2 linked regions of the Homo sapiens genome follow. The protein of the gene in region 2 purifies or fractionates together with the protein of the main gene of each other region. This does not show direct contact. Each region holds a gene or a part of one and is shown on either strand. Other genes may lie near its edges.

The links.
Region 1: the proteins of TSPAN11 (region 2) and ITGA7 purify together in Homo sapiens (affinity purification with mass spectrometry; 2 studies listed by BioGRID and IntAct, with this or other methods). This does not show direct contact.

The regions. Positions count from the first base shown.
Region 1 is NC_000012.12:55,697,702-55,701,507, forward strand, and holds part of ITGA7 (integrin alpha-7 isoform 2 precursor), read right to left. Parts: intron 3,720-3,806; exon of another isoform or gene 3,716-3,719; coding exon of another isoform or gene 3,678-3,715; exon of another isoform or gene 3,649-3,677; coding exon of another isoform or gene 3,625-3,648; intron 3,454-3,624; coding exon 3,198-3,453; intron 3,186-3,197; exon of another isoform or gene 2,865-3,185; intron 2,693-2,864; coding exon of another isoform or gene 2,561-2,692; exon of another isoform or gene 2,326-2,560; coding exon of another isoform or gene 2,289-2,325; coding exon 2,169-2,288; intron 1,217-2,168; coding exon 1,009-1,216; intron 876-1,008; coding exon 682-875; intron 326-681; coding exon 237-325; intron 122-236; coding exon 1-121. UniProt on the Homo sapiens protein: Integrin alpha-7/beta-1 is the primary laminin receptor on skeletal myoblasts and adult myofibers.
Region 2 is NC_000012.12:30,957,689-30,961,494, reverse strand, and holds part of TSPAN11 (tetraspanin-11), read right to left. Parts: intron 1-3,806.

The sequences.
Region 1 (3,806 bases), about 25 Mb from region 2:
GCACTGCGGTGTCAGCCAGGGAGCCCACCAGCAGGTCAGGGTATTGGTTCCCATCCATATCCAAGCTGCCTGACAGGGAGTAGCCGAAGCTCTTGATGCCCACAGCCTCGCCCTCCAGCACCTAGAGAACCAGCTGTCAGCCTCCCTCAATCCCACCTCCCGCAGGCCTCTGCCTCCCCTGATGCCTCTGCTGATTCCACCCACACCCATTCCCTCATCCCAGCGACTCCCCTCACCTGTGAAGGTTTGGCGACAACCCCCAGGCTGCTCCCATGGTAGATGAAGACTTTCCCATCACCATCAAAGGGGGCACCCACTGCAATATCTGCAGGGCACAGGGAAAAGGCAGTCACGCTGGCTGGGGGCCTTGCAGACAAGATCCAGGCCTCAACTCCCCCCAGTCACTCAGGTATGTTTTCTATTTTATTGAGAGGCTACAAAATCCCAGGCACTCTACATACATCATCTTTAATCCTCTTGGCCACTCCCTGCAGATATTACTAACGCAAAAAGGTTAGGAACTTGCCAAGGTCAGAAAGCTGGTAAATGGTACAGCTCAGACATAAGCTCAGGGACCCTCTCTCCCTGAGTCCTCAGAAGACCACACCCTGACCTCTGAGGGGCTTCCCCATCCCTCCTGTGGCCCCTCCCTCCCTGAGCCTTTCCAGTTCCCCGTCACACCTGGAAAGCCATCTTGGTTGAGGTCCCCCAGGACAGCCAGGCTGATCCCGAACATGGAGTCAGGGGAGCCGCAGAGCCGGAGAGGGGAGATCCCAGCCCAGTGACCCCCCTGGTTCAAGTACACATACACAGCACCCCCCAGCTCTTCTTGGCGCTCAAAGAAGTAGGGGGCACCCACTATCAGGTCTGGCCAGCTATGGAGAGAGGGAAACATTCAGTGTGGGTCCTCCCTGGCCAGAGGAGCCAGCAGGAGGCTAAGTGGCCTCAGCCAGACTGGGGCTACTAGACCCAGCCTCCCTCAGGTGGCACGGCCCTCTACCCACTCACCCATCACTGTTGAGGTCAGCCACAGCCAGTGAGTAGCCAAAGCCGGAGGTCAGGCGCTCCCCAGACAGCATAACCTCGGGCACCAGGCGACTGGCGCTGTCCTTGCGCAGGATGACCACAGCACCCTTGTGGTTGGCGCGGGGGGCTCCAGCCACAAAGCTCAGCTCTTCTGCACGCACCAGACCTTTCCCCGAGTCAATAGAGAAGCCTGGGGGAAGGGTGACTTACCCCTAAGTCTTCACCCCAAGACTCAGAAGCTGGGGTGTGTCACAGCTCCCCCAGCCCCTGCCCCCTCCCTACAGGTTAAGAGCCAAGTCACAGCTCCCCTGCACCCTGCCCCCTCCCCTAGGTTAAGAGCCAAAAGATAGGTCCCCCCAAGTCATCAGCACCACAGCTGGATAGCTCTTCCTCCCCACAGGGCCTGGCAGCCTCCCACACCCACCAGGCCCAGAGACAAGCTTGGCACAAAAAGTGCAGTGAGGTCAGCCTCAGGGACTGGGCAAGAGAGAGAAAGGTGATGGCTGAGAAGGCCAGGAGCCCAGGTAGGAGGCTGAGCACAGTGGCCTCACCCTGCCCACACCCAGGGAGCTAGAAGAGCTAGAGGTCCCTCTCAGGCCCGAATCCCACCCAGTGCACCTCTTTCCCCCAACTCCCTCATCCTGGCAGGGAGGGGAAGTCTTCACATGGATGAGGGGGAGACAAGGGGGAGTGAGAGAGCGCCTGCTTCACCCAAACATCTCCCAGGCCTGGTTTCCTCCTCCTCTGCAGAGGAATGCAGATGAGACAACGAGAGGGACTTACCAACAACATTAGCCCTTTCTTCAATATGTGCCCACCATCCATCCCCTCAGGGAAAGTCCCCCTAGAAGACAGGACTGTCCTTCCCAAAATATCCTCAGCCCTGGCCCTCTCATTCCACCTGAATCTTCCTCCATGGAGACCCCTGGCTCACAGCCCCAGAGGCCACCACCCTGGGGGCCTCCTCCTCTTAGGCCTGATCATTGGACCCAGCTCTTCTCTGCAATTTGGGCCCAATGTATGTCTCCCTGGGTGTGTGTTGGGGGAGGAGGAGATTATAAGGCACCAAAGGTCGAGTTCCCTGGGGAAGGAGGGGAGGCTGGGCCATGCCCCTAGAGTCCAGGAGGTGGGAGCTTACAAACCTAAGTAGCTATTGAGGGCCAAGTCTCCGGCTGGTCCTGGGAGCCGGTCAGCAGGGTCCAAAGTTTTATACACCAGCTGGTCGGGGTCTGAGCTATCAATGTTGGTCACAAAAAGCAACCCTGTGGGGGGTGGGGTGAGACACCAGGGAGGGGACATCCAGAGTAGGGGCCACAGAGTAGGGAGACAGAGCCACAGAAAGGCCAGAAAATGGTGGAAGAAGAAGAGGTGGAGAGAGAAAAAGAGACCAGAGAGATCACAGCCAGAGACAGAAAGACAGAGAGAGACAAGGTGAGAGACAGAAACAGAGACAGAAGGATGGGAGCATGGAGAGAGAGGACAAGAGAGAGGAGCAGAGGGTTAGAGCAGTTCTGGGCCGGGGAGAGGTCCCTACCAAAGTAGCTGTTGGCAGGGACCGGGATGAGGCGGGGGTCCTGCTCCTTCTCTCCCCCCGCCTCGTAGGGACCGTCGTCCAGGTGTGCCAGGTCCGCTGAGCCCTGTGCACAGAGCTCCACCCTGGCCGTGCCTGCAAGGACAGACCTGTTAGTGCCCAGGGCAGGGCGCAAGGAACACCCCTCAGGCCGGACACTGAGTTAGACAGGCACACGGGGAAGCCCTGCCTCTTCTTTCTAGCCCTCTCCCCACCCTGTCCCCAACCCAGGCTTCCTGGGGTCCCCCAGATGTGGCATCACACTCACCGAGTGTCAGCTCAGCCAGCAGCAGCGTGCGGAGACGGGAATGGCAGTGATGAGGTGTGGGCTAGTGTGTTGGAGCATGCAGGCCCCAGCTGCAGGCCCAGCGTGCACTTGGGGCCCATGCCAGCATGTTGAGGAACACTTGGCCGTGCGAGGGAAAGGAGGCACCCCCCATTCATGTGTGCACTAGCTCAATGGGGTGGAAGGCATGGCAGTGCCCTGGGGCCATACAGCAGTGCACATGTGGTCATGCTTGGCCATGTGCCATCCCCAACCCTGTCTCTGAGGTAAGAGGAGGTTTTGGTCCCCTTCTCCCCTTCCCGAGGAGTGACTCACCCTTCCAATTATAGGTTCCTGGGGCCCCAAAGAGGAGGTAGTGGCTATCAGGGGAGAAGGCGGCAGCTGTGCCCTGCTGGCAGAACCCAAATTGTTCATGGCCTTGGGGGCGTCCCTCACAGAACTTCCATTCCCCACCATCCAACTCATCCCGGATGGCCAGGTCCTGGCTGAGCACAAAGCAGCGACCAATCATATCCCGCGTCTCCAGGATCTGGTCCACTCGCTGCCTTGCCTCATATCGGTGTGCACAGGTCTGGGGGAGGAAGGGATGGGGATCATTTCACTCTGTGGGCCAGGGACCTGCTTGAGGCATGCTGCCCATATGCAGAGATTTGGCAGATACTGATACATGTGTGCTCACATGCACATGCACATGCACACATACACACACACCCCTATGCCGGCACCACTCAAGCACCATTACCCTGCCAGTGTTACACAGGTCCATGCATAACCCAGCAACCTGTCTGCACCCACTTCCTTGCCCTCAAATGGAGATCTCCTTGTTCCACATTCTGCCTGGAGCCAAAAGACACAATTAAGCCACCACATAGGATGTGTGTCTCCCTGATCATGTCACAGTCCTCCAAAATGCCAAGCTTGGCC
Region 2 (3,806 bases):
CAGAGGGGGTCACGGGAGGGCAGAAGTCAGCAGCCTGGGTTCTAGTTCTGACTGTGTCCCTGACTAACCACATGATTGTGGGACAGATATGCAGCCCCTCTAAGCCTCAGTTTCTTCATCTGTAAACTGGGGGCACTGGATGGGACCATATCTGAGGTCCCTTCCATATGGTTAAACTGTCCCTGCTGGTACCAGAAGTCAAGCTTCTGTCAAAGAACCTCCGGCAAGATGGTTCTGAATTAATGGCTCATGGCTGTCACTCAAGCCGCCTGGAAACTGCCTAAGTCAGCAGAAAGCAGCAGAAGAGGCAGGAAGAGGGACTTGATGGAGTGGGGAGAGATCTGACCCCAGTGAACTATTCAACAACCATTGGCATACAGTTGATTCAACAGTATTTGGCTCTTTACAGAATCTAGCGTGGTTTTCCATGAGGGTAATAACTACATTTTTCTTTTTTTTTTTTTTCCTCGCTCTGTCGCCTAGTCTGGAGTACAGTGGTGCGATCTTGGCTCACTGCAACCTCCACCTCCCAGGTTCAAGCAATTCTCCCACCTTAGCCTTCTGAGTAGCTGGGATTACAGGTGTGCACCACCACGCCTGGCTAATTTTTGTATCCTTAGTAGAAAGGGGGTTTCATCAAGTTGGTCAGGCTGGTCTTGAACTCTTGACCTCAGGTGATCCACCTGCCTCGGCCTCCCAAAGTGCTGGGATTACAGGTGTGAGCCAGCGCGCCTGGGCAATAACTACATTTTTCAAAGCCATAGCCTGTGGCCGACTAGCCAGCAAGCCCTGCAGAGGGTGAAGCCAGGCGACAAGGATGCAAGCTGGCCAGGAGGGGCGGAGCAGGTCACCCCTGTTGTGTAATTTTAGGAACTTTATGTTCATAGGAAAGAAACATGATGGGGTGAAGCATTAACCTGAGTGGCTGCACATGCCTGAGGGGCCGAGAGAAATAAGGCAGCAGACCTGGAGGAAAGCAGGCAGAGGGTATAAAAGTAAATGTAGGCGTTTTTCTTTGTCTCGCTACCATAGGGCTTCTGCAATGAAGGAAGGAAAGGGATGGGGCAGGAGCCAGGAACACTTGAATCCCAATAAGGAAGGATCCTCTGCGGAGGGGAGTTCTCCACCCTCAGTGAGGAGGAGCCCATGGCTCAGGATGCGGGAAATGCACAGGGTGATGGGAAGTGTACAGGGTGATAGTAGACTTTGTGTTTACTGGCCACCTGCTACATGCCAAGCCCCACACTGGACTGAAAAGTCTCTGGGTTGGACAGGAGCTCACCCATGGGAACCACACTCATCATCTGTGCTCCTCCTCCCTGCTCAGTCTCATACATGGCGCCGCGCCATCACCCACCCACCCACCCACCCACAGACACCACAGGGTCACTGTAGGCTCCTCCTTCTCTCAATGACAACCATGTGCCAATTCCCCTCTGCCCTCAAACCTGTCTCCATCTCCCCGCCACACTGTCCACCTCGGTTCCCCACCTCAGTTGGCTCCCGGCTCCTGGCTCCTGTTCCGCCCACAGGCTGATCCCCCAAGGCACCCCCGGCTGAGAAGTCCCCACCAGCTCCCATGCCCCAGGCACCAAGCCCAAAAACTCTTTTGCATGGCCTCGGTGCTCTTACTGTCTGGCCTTAACCTGACTTTTTGGCATCATCTTCTGGTACTTTCTTCCCCCCACACCTCGGTTTTTTTTTTTTTTTTTTTTGAGACAGAGTCTCACTCGGTCGCGCAGCCTGGAGCACAGTGGCGTGATCTCGGCTCACTGCAACCTCCGCCTCCCAGGTTCAAGCGATTCTCCTGCCTCAGTCTCCTGAGTAGCTAGGATTACAGGCACGCGCCACCACGCCTGGCTAATTTTTGTATTTTTTTTCCTGGGTTTTAATCACTTTGAACTAAGTAGTTGCTTCTTCTTGAAAACAGTGTGGTTACCTAGTAACTCAGGCACTATTAGCAGAGTGGTAAACAGCGTGAACTCCAGGGCGTGGCGCGGTGTCCGAGTCCAAGCCTTCTGTTTACTGGCTGTGTGGATTTGGATAAGCAACACAGCCTCTGTGGGCCTCAGGGAGGCTCTCTCTTTTTCCTGCCCACCTTTCACGCATTGTTCTCTCTGCCCTTTCTCTTCCGTTGAACTCCTACACACCCTCTAAGGCCCATTTTGAGATTTTGAGTGTGGCACCTGCTCTGTCCTGGGCAGGTGAGTTCATCCCTCTCCTGCATGCCTGTGGTGCTGCTCACCTCACAGCAGCCCTTGACACTTGGGGCAGGGAAAGTCCCCTCACTCCCCTCAGAACGCGGCCCAGCACACGGCCTGGTACCCGGGAGCCGCCCCAGTGAGTGTGAGACTCAGTGGATGAGGCTCTGTAGAGGGCTGTGGAAATGGCATCTGCTCCCCTACCTGCCTCTGTCTGCCGAGCTTCTGGGGCAACAGCTAGTGTTTCTCTTTCCTGCTTTATGGCTGTTTTGATTTTTAAAGGGGCAGTCCACAAAGTCCCAGTAGTCCCAGAGAGGAATAGGCTTTTTCTCTGGGTCATTAAGAAGAGGCTCCTGGAAAGGCTGGGGTTGCGCCCTCGGTATCTTAAGGTCAGACTGATGCTTGGTTACTCTCATACTTTCTTTCAACCAATACCCACTGTGCACCTGCTACAATGATGCCACGCTCTTGGGCCATCAAGGGACCCATGCCTGACACTGCCACTGCCCCTGCCCCTGCCCCAGGATCACTTGTAGGACACTGGGTTGAAAGACCTGACTTAGTAACCACCAGAGTGACTTCTGCTATGACGGAGAAGTGAATGGGTCTAGTTTGGGGAGCAAACACAGCATGGGGGCTCAGGGAGAGGACTGGGAGACCAGGTCTGAACAAGACTCAGTTTCTTTTACAGAATGGCTTCCCATTCCCACATCAGAAGAGTCAGCTGAACCTTAGACTGCAGCCCCGAGAGAGCACAGCTGAGCCCTATACCCACATGCAGGCAGGGTGGACGGCACCCCAGTCCCACGCCCAAAATGCCGAGCTCTCCAGGAGGGCACATGAAAGCGTGCATCAGGTGCTGCTGCTCACCCTCCTCATGAATGACCTTCTCTGAGTGCCAGGCATGCATTTCTCCCCAGCTCTGCCCATGCTCCTGCTGCCTTGGTTTATGGAATCTTCAAGGATAGGCTTGTTATGCTAAGGGCTATTTCCCACTTTGAGGCATCCTTGTTTTTGGCTTTCTGGCTTTAAAGAGCCCTTGATAAAATAAATCAGAACACTACCTCCTCTGCTGTCTTCCCCAGTCCCATCTACCCCTATAACAAGAGCAAAATCTCATGAGTCTTACTGAGGGGTGGAGCTGGGAGGGAACATGAGATCACCTGTTCATCTTCCAAACCCAGCTCAGAGCCCAGAGGAAACCTTCCTTGGAGCTGTCCCTGCCCCCCTCTCCCAGCAAATCATTCTGTCCTCTGTACCAACTCCAGGTCTTGCACGTTTCCATAGTTACACTCATACTCTATTTATTTTATTGGTTACCTTGTGTGCCTCCTCTTTTAGCCTCTTGATTAAACTTCGTTCATCTTAATATCCCTAGCAGAGGGCTACACATGTAAGGAAGGAAGGAAGGAAGGAGGGAGGGAGGGAGGGAAGGAAGGAAGGAAGGAAGGAAGGAGGGAGGGAGGGAGGGAAGGAGGGAAGGAAGGAAGGAGGGAAGGAAGGAGGGAGGGAGGGAGGGAAGGAAGGAAGGAAGGAAGGAAGGAGGGAGGGAGGGAGGGAAGGAGGGAAGGAAGGAAGGAAGGAAGGAGGGAGGGAGGGAGGGAG